Linked DNA regions of Homo sapiens: all the other regions are linked to region 2. Evidence: fine-mapped expression QTL. A gene starts in region 2. Each other region holds a variant in brackets. All regions are shown on one strand. Distances are from middle to middle.

Region 1 (6,825 bases), 37 kb before region 2:
CTTATGCATGGGAGGTGTGCATGAATGTTTATGGACCAGGTAAACATATCCTAAGAAAATAAAGGATGGAGGCAGAGATTCAGCTACAGGGGTATTCCTCACTGTGCTGTTGATAATAGCCCCCCCCCAAAAAAAAAAAAAAAAACAGAGAGAAACAGCCTGAATATCCGCTACTTATAGGGGATTACTTATACTTTTTTTTTAAGAGACAGGGTCTTGCTCTGTTGCCCAGGCTGGAGTGCAATAGCACAACCATTGCTCACTACAGCCTCGATCTCCCAGGCTCAAGCAATCCTCTTCCCTTAGTCTTTCCAGTAGCTGAAACTCCAGGCATGCATCACCATCCTCAGCTAATTTTTTTTTAAGTAGAGATGGGGGTCTCACTATGTTGCCCAAGCTGGTCTCGAACTCCCGAGTTCAAGCAGTTCTCCTGCCTTGGCCTCCCAAAGCGCTAGGATTACAGGCATGAGCCACCACACCTGGGCACATTTTTTTTCAGAGATGGGGTCTTGCTATGTTGCCCAGGCTAGAGTGCAGTGGCTGTTCACAGGAACGATCATAGCACACTGCAGCCTCCAACTCCTGGGCAAAAGCATCCTCCCTCCTCAGCCTCCTGAGTATTTGGGACTACAGGCTTGCACCACCCTGCCTGGCGAGGATTATTCATACATTTTAAGGTGCACCCATTTAAAGGAACACTATGAATCCAGTAAAAGCATGTTGTAGGCAGGGATTGGCAAACATTGTCTGTCAAGGGTCAGGCAGTAAGTACTTTAGATCTGGTCAGTCTCTGTCCCACCACTCAAATCCTCCAGTGAGGCACAAAAGCAGCCATGAACTAGGCATAAATCATAAATCGATGAGCAGGCTGCAGTCCAATAAAACTTTTTTCGTAGACACTGAAATTTGAATTTCATGTAATTTTCACGTGTCACAAAACAATCTTCTTTTGATTTTTTTTTCAATCACTTAAACATGAAAAAACCATTCTCTGCTTGCAGGCCATCCCAAAACAGGCAGTGGGTCATAGTTTGCCAAGCCCAGTGGTAGAAAAATACTTAATGTTGAATGAAAAAGTGAGTTACAGAACGTTCTGCATGATTCAAGTTTATAAATTAAAACATATCTGCACCGGAAAAAAAAAAAAGCTGAAGAATATACAACTGTTAACAAACATCACAGGGGTGGAATTATGGGTGATTTTTGTTCCTCTTTTTTGCTTATCTATAATTTTCTGAATTGTCAACAACAGACACACCATCAATTTGGTAATTCTTTTTAAGTGCAATAAAATGAGGACAAAAAAGGAAAGAAACAAAACCAAGTAGGTAGAGCTACAAAGCACTCAGGCACTGAGATGCCTACGCTCATCTGCTCAGAAAATGACCCTCAATGAGAGCCTGCTCAAGTTCACGTCGATTTGCCCAGGCTTCAGCTTCAAAAGAGACCTGCCTTCCACAACCATCAGCTTCTGGAGGCGAAGGAGAGAAAGCGGGGAAGGCGTGCCCCTGCGCAAGGGCTGATCTTTAGGCACCTGTGTGCTCCGAAGCGACCTCCTCCAAGCAACGTCACCCCCAACGTCCAGCCTCCTTCCTCCCCTCCCGCCAAGGCCAGCTAGAGTTTCCAAGGCGGGCATCATCTCCCCAGCAGCCAACTCAAGCCCGTGTTTCTTTGGATGGGGGTGGGGGTAAAGGGGGCGGTGCTAAGAGGACACACAGCTTGACTTCAAGGGGAAGGAAGACTGCGTAAGTTTGTAAAAGATCATGGTCATTACAATTGCAGGCTTACTTACTTTACTTCGCGATCAGGGAAACAGATCTTGCACTTGGCAGGACTCATGTTGACCACCCCGCAGGCCAATCCCACCGGGCTCCCGCAGGGGTGCAGAGCATGCACCCCTTAACCGCCTGAAGCCGACCCGAGGCCCGGGACCCAGCAGGACAGCCAGGTCGCGACCCGGAGGCCGAGATGCAGTCCTAGAGCGCCGCGGGCGGGGTTCTGCTGCAGCCGGCGGGCGCCCAACTTCGCGCTGCGCTTGCTCCATCCCGAAATGCACCCTGCGCGCCAGAGTCCCGGGCCATCGCGCCCGCCTAGGCCCCACCCAGGCCCCGCCCCCACACCGACCCCGCCCCAGGAGGGCCCCGCCTTCCGGACGGAGCCCCGCCCCCGGGCCGGCCTACCTCCGACCCGCCGCTGAGCTTCGGCAGCCGAAATGAGCTGCGGAGATATATATTTTTAAAGCCTCTCTTCTGCTTTGCTCCCCAATATGGGACACCCCTACATATTGGCAGCAATTGATATGCTTGAATACACACACGATAGGGAAGCGGTGGAAAATATGGGAAATTTAAAATGTGAGTCAGAGGTCGCCACTGTGCCCGTTAAAAGTCCCTGTTGTCAAGTCGACTTTTATTTCCCAAAGTCCTGGTTTCTCTCATCTTTTCACCTCCACTCCCTGGGACAGGTGGCTGCGCAATCACCCAGTGTGCTTCTAGCACGCACTTTGCACCACCTGGGTCCGCTACTGAAGCGAGTGCCTCCAGGACAGGGAGGACCCCAGCAGCCCGGTGATCCGAAATAAACTTCTGGTAAGACTAACATTTACTAAGTGCTCCTTTGTTCCTCTGTGTCACTTAATCCTCGTGGCAATCTTATTGTTTTTATCCCTATAATACAGATAAGGAAACTGGGGCCCAGAGATGCATGTTATCTGAAGTGCCAGAGCCCAGGGTCTTGAACTCAGACAAACCGATTCCAGTTAGAATAAACGAATGAGGCCGGGCCTGGTAGCTCATGCCTGTAATACCAGCACTTTGGGAGGCTGAGGCAGGCGCTTGAGGTCAGGAGTTTGAGGCC[G/A]GCCTGGCCAACATGGTGACACCCTGTCTCTACTAATAATACAAAAATTAGCCGGGCATGGTGGTGCACACCTGTAGTCCCAGCTACTCGAGAGACTGAGGAGAGAGAATCACTAAAACCCGAGAGGCGGAGGTTGAAGTGAGCCCAGATGGCGGTACTGCATTCCAGCCTGAGTGACAGAGTGAGACTCCATCTCAAAAAATCAAAAATAAATGAATGAATGCTTCTTCAAGTAATGTAATAAATGCAAAGAACCAAAACACTACCTAGAAGTCATCGCAGTAATAATAAAGGTAGCCTACTTTCATAGCCAACAAACCAACCAAAAATAATGTAAATGCTGGCCAGTAAATTCCCTTCTGGGTAATCACTCTGCGGTTCTCCCAGTGTACACATTAATTAAATTTGTGTGTCTTTTCTCCAACTAATCTGCCTTTTTACAAGTTAATTTTTCAGCGAAACTTCAGAGGGCAAAGCAGAAGATATTCCCTTGGTCCCTACAATCATTATGCATTCTATGCATGTAACAAAATTTTACATGTATCCTATAAATGTGTAAAAATATAATGTATCAGAATCATGAAAACAGGCCAGGCATGGTGGCTCATGCCTGTAATCCCAGCACTTTGGGGGGCCGAGGTGGGCAGATCACTTGAGGTCAGGAGTTCAAGACCAGCCTGGCCAACATGGTGAAATTTCGTCTCTACTAAAACTACAAAAATTAGCTGGGTGTGGTGGCGGGGTGGCCTGAAGTCCCAGCTACTCCAGAGGCTGAGGCAGGAGAATCACTTGAACCCACGAGGCAGAGGTTTAAGTGAGCCGAGATCAGGCCACTGCATTCCAGCCTGGGCAACATTGCAAGACTCTGTCTCAAAACAAACAAAAACATGAAAACAAATTTTAAAATACAATTAAAAATTCACTTCACAGGAAGGCCACGTGCAGTGGCTCACACCTGTAATCCCAGCACTTTGGGAGGCCGAGGCAGGCAGATCACTTGAGGCCAGCAGTTCAAGACCAACCTGACCAACATAGTGAAACCCCATCTCTACTAAAAATATGAAAATTAGCCAGCGTGGTGGTGCATACCTGTAATTCCAGCTACTCAGGAGGCTGAGGCGGGAAGATTACCTGAGCCCAGGTAGCTGAGGCTGCAGTGAGCCATGATCTCGCTACACTCCAGCCTGGGGAATAGAGCAAGACCCTTTCTCAAAAAAAAAAAAAAAAAAAAAAAAAGAAAGAAAGAAAGAAAAGGCACAGGCAGGGCCACACTTCCCGGGGGTGCCAAGTACTTGGCCACAACATAAACACCCTGGGCCCCTGTTTAAGCAGCCATGCCTGACAGCAGTGGATAGCTATGCCCTGACCATATATTAAATAACATTTCAACAACAGGTTTAAGAAAAAAAACAGATAAACAAAATTCTCAGTTCTTCAAGTTTCTGGGAAGGTGTTCACAGCCTTGTCTTCACCTCCTCCAAAAAAGTAACCCACTGTATCCTGATTTTTAGAGATTCAAACCAAAACCAACAAGTATTCATCCCCCAAATATCCCCAGTGTAAATGTAACCACCTCAAAATAGGGAAAGCAATGAAAATCAAGAAATGAAGATATTTCAAAATACCCCAACCCTACCAAAGTCAGTTAGGATCATGCAGAAGAGAACTGCTTGCCAGCATACTTGTATTGCTCTAGATTTTTATTCTCTATTGCAAAAACCCCAACACTACTTAAACACTGTATAGATATTCTCACTTCTCTGCTAATACAGCCTGAAAGACAGCCTCACACATCTCACTATGACCCAGGGTCTCAAATAAGGGATTTCATTTAGATGGGTGGGCTCATCATTTCATCACAGTGATCATGACCTTGCATTTTTCTCTAATTGCATTATTAGGGAATAGAAGACGGAAAGAAATGAATAATATTCAGTCGGTGCAAAACTAATTGCAGTTTCTGCCATTAAAAGGGATTGCAAAAACCACGATTACTTTTGCACCAACCTAATATCCACCTCCAAGCACAACACCACCTTTATACAAACATCCATTGTTGTGCTTTTTGATGAAACAGTTCAAGCATGGTGGTAGTTGCTGTCTCATGCATTAAGCCCTTCCTCTCAGACTTACTAGAAGCTCAATTTTACTTACTGGTATTGCAGAGGGAAAACCCAGGTCAATGAACAATACACACACAAAATCAACAAGAAAATCCGCATGCATGTGGCCAGCAGCGTGGTAGAAAGACTGTGCCATCCATGGGCTTGAACTTACCCTTCCCCTCACGGATGACCTTAAGTAAATCCCGTCTCTCCACTTCCTCAACTATAAAATTATCCACATACAATTTGCCTTCATTTTTGCAGAAAAGCAAAATGAAATAATCTCTTTCAATATATGGGGTGGGGGGGACTGTGTTACATTAAGTATAGAGCAGAAGTGAATAATTTTTCTAAAATAGGGCAATGATGCTTAAGGGGGAGGGGAATGTATGAATGGTTAGTTGCTCTGTACCTTGTATTAACTTAATACAAGAACAACTCAAAGACAGGGATCCTCTTTCCCCCAAGCTCCTAGAAAACATTTTAGGAGGCCGGGCGCAGTGGCTCACACCTGTAATCCCAGCACTTTGGGAGGCCAAGGAGGGCAGATCATGAGGTCAGGAGTTCAAGACCAGCCTGGACAACATGGTGAAACCCTGTCTCTATTAAAAATACAAAAATTAGCTGGGCATGGTGGTGCATGCCTGTAATCCCAGCTACTCGGGAGGCTGAGGCAGGAGAATTGCTTGAACCGGGACCCGGGCGGTAGAGGTTGCAGTGAGCTGAAATTGTGCCACTGCACTCCAGCCTGAGCTACAGAGCGAGACTCCGTCTCAAAAAAAAAAAAAAGAAAGAAAAAAGAAAAGAAAAGAAAAAAAGAAAAAGAAAAAGAAAAAGTAAACATTTTAGGAGCTAAAGAGACTTGAAAAGAGAGTTTCTCCCAGCCCCTTCCTAAGTCAATAAATGAATAAATTAAACATTACAGGAAGATCCTTGGCATTTCACTCAGGGGCGCATAAAAATATGCATAGACAATTTAGTTTCCTGACCTGTTCCTTGCTTGGAGCCGATAAGAGATGTGGGCTGGGATGACGAACAAGCAGCTGGGAGGCTGCACTGCAAGCCCACCCAGTCTGCTATCTGGGAAAGTGGGGGCGATGCCAGGTCCCTGGTGTCAGCTCCCTTTCCTGGTATTCCTTCACCTACCTTTGCCTGCAGGGCCCCCTCTGTATGTCCAGACCCCACAGAGCCTCATTTGCCTTCCTGGGATCCAAGGTCTGCCTTGCTAAACTGTTCTTACCTCAGTGATCCCAACATGGTCGTAAATGGTGGCGGGAAGGAACACTTCAGCACCCATCTGCTGTTTTGGACTTTATCCTTTTATCGGGACACTTCACCTGCCTTTTCAATCCTCTTCCTCCTCCGTGGACACAGGTTGCTACACCTTTAAGATGTAAGCCCGGCCAGGGCTTGGGAATAACCATGCGCACAGGCAAGAACTTTGGAAGAAGCCCACCCAACTAATGGCTACTGAACCACCTCTGGGCCGTCCACCCCCAGCACTTGCTCCCACTCGATCTCAACAATCTCCTAAAGTAGGCACTAGTATTATCCTGCCTCAACAGAGCAGGAAATTGCAGCTCAGACAGGTAACAGGAGAGGTCTGAATCCAGACCTGATTGTGGGTCCTGGGCTCTTATGCCGTGCACTGGATCTAATGACCATGATCGCACCATGGGTGCTGCTTCGAGTGCTGTACTTACAGCAACTCAATGAAGCCTGATCCCAACCCTGTGAGGGAGGTAACACGATGACTTCATTTCAGAGGAAACTGAGGCACAGAAAATCACAGAACTTGGCCCCAAGTCACATGATGGCTAGGTGGAGAAGCCAGCACACCAGCCCCCAGCCTCAGCCACCAGCG
Region 2 (6,825 bases):
TCAAGCGATTCTCCTGCCTCAGCCTCCCAGGTAGCTGGGATTACAGGCGCACCACCATAACTGGCTAATTTTTGTATTTTTAGTAGAGACAGGGTTTTGCCATGTTGGTCAGGCTGGCCTTGAACTCCTGACCTCAAGTGATCTGCCTGCCTCAGCCTCCCAAAGTGCTGGGATTATAGGCGTGAGCCACCCAGCCCTGTCTCAAAATCATTTTTTTTTTTTTTTTGAGACAGAGTCTTGCTCTGTTGCCCAGGCTGGAGTGCGGTGGCACCATCTCGGTTCACGGCAAGCTCCACCTCCTGTGTTCAAGTGATTCTCCTACCTCAGCCTCCCAAGTCGCTGGGTTTACAGGCACTAGCCACCACACCCAGCTAATTTTTGTATTTTTAGTAGAGAAAGGGTTTCACCATGTTGGCCAGGTTGGTCTCAAACTCCTGACCTCAAGTGATCTAGCTCCTCAGCCTCCCAAAGTGCTGGGATTACAGGCGTGAGCCACTGTGTCTGGCCTGAAGAGACCTTTTCTATGTGTAGTTGTTTTCTGGGGCCCCAGCAAGGGTCAGAGTGGCTAAGGTATGAGCCCAGAGAGCAGGACTTCTGGAGTACAGCAGACTTGGGTGGAGGCTTTGCCATTTGTTATCTGATTGGCCTGAGCCCATCATGGAAATTCTCTGAACCTTGGTTTCCTGGCCTGTGGAATGGAATAAATAAAATCTCCTTCCTAGGATTGTCCTCAAAATTATGTGAGATCCCATAATTATTATGGCATACCTGGGGTATGCCAACTACCCAATAATCAATACCTTGGTTTCTCTGCTGTGCCCAGCCTGGATTCTCTGATACAAGGATCCCTGGATTCCTGGAATAAATGAACACGGTCTATCTTCCTAGAAAATCACCTTACTCTACGGTCATAAATTTACTATTATCACTGCAAACAGAGAGATCTATTAGGATAGGATGTGAAATGTGCATACATTTTTCCGATCAAATGCAATATTTCTAACTCTGTTTCCTGGTTTCCCTGGGTACAGGTGAACTCTACTTTGAAGTAACAAGTCACTGAATCACAAATTCAGAGGAAGCATGAGAACAAGGTATTCCAGGCCGGGTGCAGTGGCTCATGCCCGTAATCCCAGCACTTTGGGAGGCCAAGGTGAGCAGATCACTTGAGGTCAGGAGTTCGAGACCAGCCTGGCCAACATGGCAAAACCCCATCTCTACTAAAAATACAAAAATTAGCTGGGCGTGGTAGTGCTTGCCTGCAATCCCAGCTACTCGGGAGACTGAGACTGAGGAATTGCTTGAACCTGGGAGGCAGGGGTTGCAGTGAGCTGAGATTGTGCCATCGCACTCCAGCCTGGGTGACAGGACGAGACTCTGTCTCAAAAAAAAAAAAAAAAAAAGAACAAGGTCAAAGTTTCTACTGGGATAAGACTTCAAGGAAACCTCCATTTCAAAAGATTAAAATGTTTATTTCCCCATGAAGACTGGGTATCTCATGTAATGTAATACTCAAATTTCTGTCTCAGACCTAAAGGTGTTGAAAGTATGAGCGAGTTTACACAACACCTGAGCAGGAGCAAATAAAACTCTTAAGAGCTTCTGAAAGAAAGTTACAGATTAGAGATATTTTCATCTCTAAATCACATGAATTAGGATTGGCTGGGTCTTTCCACTTAAAACTTGGAGAAGTCATAAAAAGAAATCTTGTAAAGAACTCCATGTCACTATTAGCAGAAACATGCAATTTATAAAATGATATCTTTGGCCAGGCGCGGTGGCTCATGCCTGTAATCCCAGCACTCTGGGAGGCCGAGGCGGGCGGATCACTTGAGGTCAGGAGATCGAGACCATCCTGGCTAACACAGTGAAACCCTGTCTCTACTAAAAATACAAAAAAAATTAGCCGGGCGTGGTAGTGGGTGCCTGTAGTCCCAGCTACTTGGGAGGCTGAGGCAGGAGAATGGCGTGAACCCAGGAGGCGGAGCTTGCAGTGAGCACTCCATCTCAAATAATAATGATAATAATAATATCTTCACCTTTCAGTTTTTAAATTGCAAGTCCCATGTCCCGGGAATTCCCCGGTCCTGGGCAAAGTGGGATGGTTGGTCACCCAACCTATATGGATGCCCATTGATATTAAAAAATAAAAGTAATCACAATAGACATGAGGGAGAGAGTTGTGTACAGTGTGAGTGTACAGAATAAAAGGTCTGGGGGGTTTATACCAAAATGTGCACAGTGGCTACCTGGAGGAGGAGGGTTAGACAGGAATAACAGCAAGGAGACTTTTGCACGGTGCTGAGTGACTTTTTAACTTGCATATTATTTTGGAATGCATTTTTTCAACATTGAAAGAAAGTCATGTCTTCCTAGAAATATAGGATATAGGACCACTACAAACGCTTTACTCTTAGTCTCCTTTTTTTCTTTTTCTTTTCTTTTTTTTTTTTTTTGAGACAGAGTCTTGCTCTGTCAGTCAGGCTGGAATGCAGTGGCGCAATTTTAGCTCACTGCAACCCCCACCTCCTGGGTTCAAGCGATTCTCCTGCCTCAGCCTCCCAAGTAGCTGGGATTACAGGTGCCCATCACCACATCTGGCTAATTTTTATGTGTTTAGTACAGATGGGGTTTCGCCATGTTGGCCAGGCTGGTCTCGAACTCCTGACCTCAAGTGATCCACCTGCCTCTGCCTCCCAAGGTGCTGGGTGGCATGAGCCACCGTGCCCAGCCTTAGTCTGCTTTAAAAAAAAAAAAAAAAAAAAAAAGAACAACCATTTGAGGAAACAGAAACAGAATACTATTCCTTAAGACAGTAGCTTTGGAGGCAAAAAACAGAATTGTTTATAAAACGTTGTGGAACTTATATGGGAGCATGTCCAGGGATCCACACCACCATTTATAGAAGCAAAGAAAGGCCCTTCTCTTTCATCTGCGTTACATTTCGAGCTCTTCTGATTAGCTTCCTTCAAACATGACGGGAGTCGTTTTTCCCCGGGGACCCCAAGTGCATGCCTTCAGACAGGGTCTGCTCTCACTATACATTGGGTTCGAATTTACCTGGACGTTGGCAGAATGGTCCGGACCCCGGGGAGGGGCGAGCTGACTTACCACTTTATTCCTGCCGCTTTTCTCTTGCCATGTCCTCCCCACCGTGCATTCAGGGTTACATTTTCCAGGTTCCTTGTTTGCTGAGGGCCTGAATCTAAGCCTGCTAGCTGCTTACTCTGGGGACTGCAAATGTCACTTTTAGATTAATCAGCCCCTGCTGTTTAAAAATATCCCTGGAGCACTTAACCTTCAAAGCAGCAACAACCCGGGGCAAAGATGAGAAAGATCCCACGTCAAACCACTTGTGCAGCCCTGGCTACTCCTGGGAGAGTTCTGCTATCTGCCTTTTAATCCCATAACTCGCTTTATTTCATAATTCTTAGCTGTTGAAGCCATGAGGCATCTAAAGTCCATGTTGTCGTAAGCAGTAGGCAGAAAGTCATCTGGGCCCTCCTGTGACATGCTGAAAATTAACTGCCTACAGGTGTTGGTCATTTGAGAAACAAGCCCCCATTGAAAACCGTGAATGGGAAGGTGATCGCTATCAGGTCACCTGGCTTCTCTCCCCTGAAAAGATTTGGCGAAACCCTCTCAAATCACGCCACTTAATGGAATGTTTCCAATTTCTTGTGACTTGGGGATAAAAGAAAAAAACAGCTCCATTGCCACATTCTCATTCAGGGTTGACTGGCTCTTGCTAGGGTTGAGCACAGAAGAGGAAATTCAGCACACGCTGCAGTTACATAGTGTTCTGCAACGTGGGGAGGGCTGGCATGTGGGACAAAGGTCGCCTCCAAGGCCCAGCTGGAGAAGCCCAGCCAACTAGGCAGCAGGAAAGTGGAGACCACATAGGAGCACATTGTGCTCAGGCAACAGGGAAGGTGGAACCCACTTCCTGCCAACAATGATGGCCTTACTAAACAGCAAGTGGAGAAACTGGCGAGAGCGCTGAGCACGGGATCTGTGCAAAATGGTTTAAATGGAAATTGCTGCTGGGGCTGGTGCAGCCTGTTCACAGCTACTTTGTTTCTGGGCTTATTTTGCAATAAGGAACAGTCATTGAATATTGGACTTCTTGGGATTTTCTCCACTGGACTTGGAAGCATGTGCTCTGGAAACCTCAGCATTATCAGCTGTAACCCCACAGCACCAGGTACATGTTACAGGAACCGGGGTGAAGGAATGCAGGTCAAATGCCTGCACAATGCCCGGCCCGAGTCATATGTTCTCTAGCCACAGTAGCCCTTGTGATGGCTCTTAGTCTATTTATTAAGACAATAAAAGAGGTGACTCTCAAACAAACCTATGTTTCCAGGGAGAGCCATCTGTGATTCAAGGACATTTTTATAAAATTCCATTGAAAAAAATTCTTAGGCTTCTAACTTCATGAAAAAAAAATTCTTTCCCAGTGATTCCAAATAATCATGATCTAGGCAGGGTGTTGACAGTGGCAGGACTATTAGGCTTTGAAATCAAGCTGATGTGGGTTTGAATCCTCCCTCCATTAGCCATGACTTTGAGCAAATGGCTGAGCTTCAGTGTCCTCATCAACTACTTCACCATATGGGTGAGAAAATGAAATGATTTATATTGAGTTTCTGGCACAGGGGCTTGCTCATGACAAGCACTTAATATCTTTCTAATGAAATTCATTACTTGCAAAAAGACTAGACATACCCACACATACAGGTGAAGAACTCTGCAGTGATTCAGTTCTCCCTAGACACTATCTCTTTAAGACACAGGTATTTTCCAGAATATAATTGGAAGGCTTGAAACCAAAGTTATTCATAAACTCTTTCCATCAAACACAAGAACGGTAATAGAAATATATTTCTTCAAACAGCTGTTAGTTTCAGAAAGTCACAGGTATCAAGTTACATTTTTTGTTTTGTTTTGTTTTGTTTTAGAAATAGGATCTTGCTCTGTTGCCCAGGCTGGATGGAGTGCAGTGGCATGATCATAGCTCACTGCAGCCTCGAACTCCTGGGCTCAAATGATCCTCCTGCCTCAGCTTCCCAAGTAGCTAGAACTACAGGCACACACCACCCCTGGCTAATTAAAAAAAAAAAAATTTTTTTTTTTTAAAGACAAGGTCTCATTATGTTGCCCAAGTTGGTCTTGAACTCCTGGCCTAAAGCGATCTTCTTGCCTTGCCTCCTAAAGCACTGGGATTACAGGTATGAGCCACTGTACCTGGCCCAAAAAAAATTATTAAGTGACCACATGGTCTAACAAAACAAGGCACCTGGAAAGAAATCACCAGTCCTGCTGCAAACCGGACCCTCTGTGAGAATTCACATGCCTTCCCCCACCAATTAAATCAGAATTTCCAGGGATGGGGTCTGGCTTTGCATGTTTTAGCTTCTCTAGGCTGGAGGAGCACTAGCTTCTTGTTGGAAGGCTCCCTACCTTCCTCTCCCACACCCTCACCCCAAACATCATTAAGAGAGACAAAAGAACATGCTATATACACAACTAACAAGCAGAGAACATAAATTATTGATCTCCTGGTCTGCTCCGCTCACCAATATTTATATTTCCAAGCATATTTCAAAAACTTAAAAACTGGTTCCCTAGCCTGGGCAACTTAGCAAGACCCCATTTCTATTAAAAACTTAGCCAGGTATGGTGGTGCATACCAGTGGTCCCAGCTGCTCAGGAGGCTGAGGCAGGAGGATCACCTGAACCCAGGAAGTTGAGGCTGCAGTGAGCCATGACTGAGTCACTGTACTCCATCTTAAGAAACAGAGTGAGACTCTATCGCAAAAAAAAGAAAAAAAAATTGGTTCCCATTGACTTAAACTACAAAGGAACTTCCTGTTGTCAGACCCAAATTACAGTGTCAGAAGGACTCTAAACAAGGAGGCCATCTCCAGCAGAGGAATGTTCTAGCTTTCCTCAGCTTGAGTCAGCACAAGTCAGCATGTGAGGTCTTTTCAAAGTAACCCAGAGCACCTCCCTGCAACCTGTTTTTCCTTGCAAATCTTGAAGGTTTGGCAAGGATGAAAAGCCAACACCACACGCATACGCCAAAAAGTTTGCTTCTCCACCAAACATACTTGCGAAGACTTTTATATGAGAAGCAAACTGAAGCAGAAAGTGAATTTGAACAGAGATGTATTATCTAATAATGCAAGCATACTAGCAACATGCTAAAGTCTATCTTTAAAAAATGCAAACAATTTATAGTCCCTGACCTTCCCCTGCTGGATGTAGATCAAAAGCAGGCAGTGACTTTCACACAATTAATTATTTTATAACTGGACGTTTCCAGTACAACATTTGCTAATAACTGACTTCCTTGTGTTACCAATTCCAAAAGCTGTCAGAGATCTCCCTAACTCACCTGAAAAGGGAGGAAACAGGAATCATTAGGCCAGGTTCTCAGAAGCCTCCCAAACCTTGCCACGTGGAACCATCCAGCTCCACATCCAGCATGTGGGTCCTGCCTTTGCAGAGGCAGGCTCCTCAGTGTTGAATGCTCTTGTTCCTCTTTGTGGCCTGGAAAGTTCAATATCCACTCAGACATTCTCTCCACTGGGAAATGTCTTCTTTCCTGGGCTGACCCAGCCGTTGCTGCCTTTTTGTTCCCACCGCACTGACAGTGAGTACACACAGGGGTCTGCAGACTGTGGTTCCAGATGCCTGTTTTCCAATAGCTCCCAAGCTAGGAGTGGTTTTTACATTTGTTAAATGCTTAGGAAAAAAAAAGATTTCGTGACACATGAAAATCATATTAAAATCTAATTTCAGTGTCCATAAATAATAAAG
Region 3 (6,825 bases), 130 kb before region 2:
ATGGCGCAATCTCAGCTCACCGCAACCTCTGCCTCCCGGATTCAGTGATTCTCCTGCCTCAACCTCCCGGGTTGAGGCACCACCACACCTGGCTAATTTTGTATTTTTAGTAGAGACAGGGTTTCTCCATGTTGGTCAGGCTAGTCTCAAATTCCTGACCTCAGGTGATCCACCCACCATAGCCTCCCAAAGTGCTGGGATTACAGGCGTGAGCCACCACGCCCGGCAGCAAATTACTTTTTCTACTCCTCTTTGTTTGAGAGATTTATCCATATTGATAAATTTAGCTCTGGTCTGCTGTTCAGTTTTCCATTCTCTCGATAGATAGATAGATAAATAGATAGATATAGACATAGATATAGATATAGAGGCAGACAGACAGACAGACAGCTGGGTGTGGTGGCTCATGCCTGTAATCCAAACACTTCGGGAGGCTGAGGCAGGCAGATCACCTGAGGCCGGGAGTTTGAGACCAGCCTGGCCAACATAGTGAAACCCTGTCTCCACTATAAATAAAAAAATTAGCCAGGCATGGTGGCTCATGCCTGTAAAAAAGAGACAATGGATTTATCTAAAAAAGAGACGATGGATTTGCTTCTGGTTCAGTCATGTTTCTTCCCTTATAGCTCTTGAGGTCAAAGGCAAAAGGATACAGACAATGACATTCTTAATCATAAGTTTCCACTTATTAAGCGCCCACTGAATACATACACTTTTCCAACAACTTTTGGTAGGTACTGTTATTATTCTTATTTTACAGAAGAGGAAACTGAGGCCCAGAGAGGTGAAGGAACTTGGCTAGGGACAGCAGGAAGCAAGGGGACAGATCCAGCATTCGAGCTGAGGCCCGAGTTACTCTAAAGAGCAGCTTTTCCTACTCTTTCATATCCTCTATGCATGAGGCATAGGCAGAGGTAGGAACAGATGCTTCCTGCCTACACTGGAAGGTCCTTGACCTTGGTTTCATGAACGTCATTCACTTGTTGATGGGGTTGTTGTTTTTCTTGTAAATTTGTTTGCGTTCTTTGTAGATTCTGGATATTAGCCCTTTGTCAGATGAGTAGATTGCAAAAATTTTCTCCCATTCTGTAGGCTGCCTGTTCACTCTAATGGTAGTTTCTTTTGCTGTGCAGAAGCTCTTTAGTTTAATTAGATCCCATACCAACATGGCACATGTATACATATGTAACAAACCTGCACATTGTGCACATGTACCCTAGAACTTAAAGTATAATAAATAAATAAATAAATATATATATATATATATAATGTCATTCCAAAGCAATCCTGGAAAATGAAGAGACATTCACATCACCAATGTCAGTGGTTCAGGCTCCTTTAAAGCCCCTAGGGCATAAACATATAAAGGCATAAAAAATACTTGAAGAAAATGCACCCAAATGTTCTTTCAGGCATTGATGGTGGGAAAATTACATATGAATAGAATTTTACTTCCTTATTCTTACCTTTCCATAGTTTCCTATGTATACTTTAATCATCAGAAAAACATAATAAAACATTATTTTTTTGTTTTTGTTTTTGTTTTTGAGACAGAGTCTCGCTCTGTCACCAGGGCTAGAGTGCAGTGGGGCCATCTCAGCTCACTGCAGCCTCCACCTCCCGGGTTCAAGCAATTCTCCTGCCTCAGCCTCCCGAGTAGCTGGGACTACAGGTGCCTGCCACTACGCCTGGTTAATTTTCGTATTTTTAGTAGAGATGGGGTTTCACCATGTTGGCCAGGCTGGTCTTAAACTCCTGACCTCAAATGATCCACCTGCCTCAGCCTCCCAAAGTGCTGGGATTACAGGCGTGAGCCACTGTGCCCAACCCAAAACATTATTTTTTAAGAGTAGACTAAAAATTACTCAAGGCAGTGACCCCCTCCTCTTTCCCACAGCTGTCTAGACTTCGAATGGTGCCTGGTAAGTAGCAGGTACTTAATAAATGACCATTAAAAAGACCAGAAGGAAACACATCAAAATGTTAAGCAATTTGTCATCAGAGTGTGGGACTAGGAATTATTTTTTCTTTGTTCCAACCTCCTTTATTTTCTGAAGTTTCTATATCCTATGACTTTTATCATTGGGATAAATTAGTCTTATTTGGAGAAAAATACTATGAAGTCGTTCTCAACACATTCATTTCTTTTTCTTCAATGCAGACCTTGTTCTTTTTTTTTGAAGACGGGGTCTCACTCGGTCACCCAGCCTGGAGTGCAGTGGTGACATCATGGCTCACTGCAGCCTCGACCTCCCAGGCTCAGGTGATCCTTCCTGCCTCAGCCTTCAAGTAGCTGGGACTACAGGCATGCGCCACCACGCCCGGTTAATTTTTGTATATTTTGTAGAGATGGGGTTCTTCAACTCCTGGGCTCAAGCAATCCTCCCTCCTCGGCCTCCCGAAGTGCTGGGATTATAGGCGTGAGCCACCGCACCTGGCAAGACCTTGTCCTTTAGACTAGGTCTTTAGAAGGAGAATTAAGGATGGGCTTTGGTTCTGGTGGAGTCTGCTGGGAGGACCCAGGGGGTACCGCGTCTGAGCCGCCGGACTTGCCTGCCTGAACATTTCCGGGAAGTCATAGATGTAGGTGGTTCCCAGGGTCTGGGCCTGGAATCGCTTGGCCTGGAGCAGATCCTTGGTGACGTAGGGAGTATTGATCAGCATCCCGTGCTGGGGCCCTTGCTTGTTGCCGAAGGAGTGAAACATGATCTGGACCAGAAAGGAGGGAAAACAGAGAGTGAGAGAGAATCACACATCTCCCCCAATTTATTTCTGCCCAGTCCTCAATGAAAATGCAGGTGGGGGAAGCAAAGCATGTCACATGGCATGACAAAGTGAGTGCCTGGGCTACGTAAAACTCCCTTCTTCACCACTGTGGAGGGCCAGAACAAGAAGGGACAACAGGGGCTGTGGAATGCAGTTCCAAAAATACAGTGATCAAGGCATC[A/T]CACACTCCCAACAACAGGCATGCATGGAAACGCTGGTGAAATCCGAACGTGGTCAGTGTTGGTGCGAACAGTCCTGTGCCAATGTCAATTTCCTGTTTTAATGATGTGCAATGGTGAAGTTCAATCAACATTACCATTGGGGGAAACTGGGTGAAAATCCTCTGCACTATTTTTTTTCTTCTGTACTAATTTTGCAACTGCTTGAGAGTCTTCAGTCTTCAATTACTCCAAAATAAAAAGTGCATAGACCAGGCACAATGGCATGTGCCTGTAGTCCCAGCTACTTGGGAGGCTGAGGCCAGAAGATTGCTTGAACCCAGGAGTTCAGGCCCAGTCTAGGCAATATCTCTTTAAAAAATGGCGTGTATATATATGTATATTTTTATGTACACACATAGGAATTTAAATGGCAGTCAAAAGAACATTTAATTCACTTTACAAAAGTCTGTCCTAGAACATGGTTGGGAAAGTATTTCCCTAAGTGAACCAATCTGAGGACTGCATTACAGTCAACCACAGTAGTGCACAACTTATCCCAAATATGGCCATATGGCCAGGCGTGGTGGCTCACGCCTATAATCCCAGCACTTTGGAGGTCGAGGCGGGCAGATCACTTGAAGTCAGGAATTCGAGACCAGCCTGGCCAATATGGTGACACCTTGTCTCTATCAAAAATCCAACATGGCCACAGAATGGATTAAACTTGGAGATTCACTCTCCTTTTTAGGTGAGTGAAAAACCAAGATTCAAAGGCTAACACATTTAACATAACACTCAGAGGGGGCTACCCCAACCCAGAATGACATGGGAGAGCAAGGCAAGACCGCCTCCAAATGCCATCTTAATCTACAAATTGATGGCCCAAGCAGCCTGCTTCTGCTTTGACTTAGACCCCCACGGCGCGGGCCAGCCTTACATTTCCAGATCTGGAGTCAGTCACTTCTTTGTAGAGGCTGATGTCCAGGTAGTAGCCCGACTCATTGGTGATGAACAGGCGGATGGGAACGGCACTGCCGGTGGTGGTCTGGCGGATGTTGATCTTGACCTCAGCCTGTAGCACACGGAGTTTCCACAGCCGGCTGCCGTAGCGCATAACCATGTAGCGCACGGACTCCTCGATCTGCCCCAAAACACAGCAATTCCAGTTTCAGGGCCAAGACATCCCAAGGACATTTGCAATAGCACTGATACTAATAAGAGGATGAGATATACTGACTGCAAAAACGCCTGGGACATAGTGTGTATCCAACAAAAAGTATTAACTAATAACAAGCAACGGCTCTTGCTAAGCATTTAAAACTCTACCTCATTTTGCCTTCGTAAGTACTCAAGAGAGGCGAGCTTTTCTAATCCCTCACTGACAGATAAGGAAACTGAGGCTGATAAGTGACTGAACTAGTACTGCTATGTTATACTATCTTTACATGCCTTTGACTCAAGCCATTGCACTGCTTCCTTCTGGAACTACCTGAACTAGTGAGGCCAGAGCCTCCACATGGGTCCCCTGAATCCCCCAGATACCAAACGGATGTATCAGGACTTCTCTTTTTAATAATACTATTGTATTAATTATTTTTAATAATATATATTATTAAATAATAAAATAAAATACATTTATATATTTTAATAATATTAATATATCGATATTAATATTAATTTGATTAATAATCTTAATATTTTATTTTTTAATTTTTAAAATTTTTAGTAGAGATAGGGTCTCTCCATGTTGCCCAGGCTTGTCTCAAATTCCTGGGCTCAAGCAATCTACCCACCTCAGCCTCCCAAAGTACTGGGATTACAAGTGGGGCTTCTTTCATTCCAGAATCACCACCATAAAAGTCTGTCTGCTCGTGAAGAGCCACCTGACAGGGAACATTCAGCCACAGACCTCACGGTCTCACGTCTCTCCCCACCCACATGCAGTCCCCAGCGCAGCCTGGAACCAGGGAAAGGACAAAATTTTGTTTTGAAAGACATTTTGAGCATGCTTGTCATCCTTAAAGTAAAGCATTCCCGTGCAGGGCATGGCTAAAACATAGCTCTAGAATTGAATGGCAGAAGGTTTGCTCTCCTCCCGCAGCAACTGAGGCTCAGATACGCATGGTTTCATCCTGGAACCCAGGTCTTGAGTGGCAAGAGACAATACCCCAAAGCAGCATGGCTCAGAGGGTGAACCCAGAGCCCGGTGAGAGCCCCCCTGCAAAGGCGAGACCTTGAAGGGGTCCATGATGACAGTGGGCACGAAGTTGAGGAAGATGTGGTTGCAGTCGGTGCGCACGCTGGTGTTATTGAACGCCACCTCCAGCTCGTCCATGGCCTCCAGGAGCAGCCGCTCACCCTCGTTCTGCAGGTATTCGAAGGAGGCTTCCTGCCAAAGAGTGGGAGGGGCAGCTGCTCAGGCCAGGGGTGCAGGCCTACTCCCAGCTGGCTGGAAACTCAGCCCCAAAGAGGCAGAGACAGGAGGAAAACATTCCCCTCCTCCAAAAAGTGTGCCAGGCAAGAACAGCAGAGCCCTGCCTCTCAGAGGCGAAGGGACTGCAAAGCTGTTGAGTGTATTGACATGTGTCCTATTTTCTGCATTCTGACACTTTGACACCTGGGGCCTTGCTGACCCTGGATCATACCTGGGGACACAAACCACCTGCTCTAATCACCCAGGGCCAGATTCCTGAGAACCAGAGACAGCTTCTATATGCCAGGGTCTGCTGAGATGATTCACAGCCAATCCTAAACCTGTTTACTCAGCCTCACTTTTTTCTTCTCCAGGAAACCACAATCAAGGCTCTCGTCCACGTCTTCCATGTCTTCCCCTCTGTCCCTCTGCTGCCTGACCAACCCCAGAGCCTCCCCATGTGGCCCCATGGCAGGGAAAACCCCTTCTTCTTGGGAACTATGAGTAATAAACTGTCTTTTTGATGGCAGTTGTCTCCTTATCTGTTGGCCTCACCATACCTCAACAATAATAAAACCTATTAAAACGGCTTGGCCAGGCACAGTGGCTCACGCCTATAATCCCAGCACTTTGGGAGGCCGAGATGGGTGGATCAGTTGTCAGGAGTTCGAGACCAGCCTGGCCAACATGGTGAAACTCCGTCTCTACTAAAAATACAAAAATTAGCTGGGCATGGTGGTGGGCGCCTATAATCCCAGCTACTTAGGAAGCTGACGCAGGAGAATCGCTTGAACCCGGGAGGCAGAGGTGGTAGTGAGCCAAGATCACGCCACTGCACTCCAGCCTGGGTGACAAGAGCAAATCTCTGTATCAAAATAAAAATAAAACATCTAGCTGACAGGTAGCAAAAAAACTGCAGTTAGCTTAATATCCATCAATAGGGCCAGGCGTGGTGGCTCACGCCTGTAATCCCAGCACTTTGGGAGGCCGAAGTGGGCAGATCACCTGAGGTCGGCAGTTTCAGACCAGCCTGACCAACATGGAGAAACCCCATCTCTACTAAAAATACAAAATTAGCTGGGCATGGTGGGGTGTGCCTGTAGTCCTAGCTACTCAGAAGGCTGAGGCAGGAGAATTGTTTGAACCCGGGGGTGCGGAGGTTGCAGTGAACTGAGATTGTGCCATTGCACTCCAGCCTGGGCAACAAGAGCAAAACTCCATCTCCAAAAAAATATATATATATAATAATTATATATACATTTATATAAATATATATTTATATAAATACATATAATATGTATTATATTATGTATATATAATGTTATATAACATATTATATATTATATTATGTATATTATATGTTATATTATATAATATATTATATATATTATTATATATAATTATATATATAATAATATATATATGTTTCCATCAATAGGGGATTAGTAAAAAAAAAAAAAAAATTATACACGGTACATCCATGCA

The links. PIP is the estimated chance that this variant, and not a neighbour inherited with it, causes the effect.
Region 1: its variant is fine-mapped to the expression of ACACB in whole blood (INTERVAL, PIP above 0.99).
Region 3: its variant is fine-mapped to the expression of ACACB in sigmoid colon (GTEx, PIP above 0.99).

What each region holds. Positions count from the first base shown.
Region 1 is chr12:109,149,908-109,156,732 of GRCh38, reverse strand. The region is part of intron 2 of ACACB (acetyl-CoA carboxylase beta); the gene reads right to left. Among named protein-coding and RNA genes, the nearest start is that of ACACB, 37 kb to the right of the region's middle. RefSeq lists a silencer at 2,079-2,238. The variant G/A (reference allele first, on the strand shown) is at 2,857.
Region 2 is chr12:109,112,991-109,119,815 of GRCh38, reverse strand. ACACB (acetyl-CoA carboxylase beta) reads right to left here and starts at 3,229. Exons shown (of 53, transcript NM_001093.4): 1 at 3,112-3,229. It overlaps LOC105369974 (a long non-coding RNA gene), which reads left to right. Exons shown (of 3, transcript XR_945332.3): 3 at 1,032-1,162.
Region 3 is chr12:109,238,321-109,245,145 of GRCh38, reverse strand. It overlaps ACACB (acetyl-CoA carboxylase beta), which reads right to left. Exons shown (of 53, transcript NM_001093.4): 35 at 5,161-5,316; 36 at 3,865-4,068; 37 at 2,554-2,709. Among named protein-coding and RNA genes, the nearest start is that of FOXN4, 68 kb to the left of the region's middle. RefSeq lists enhancers at 4,735-5,234, 5,235-5,736. The variant A/T (reference allele first, on the strand shown) is at 2,948.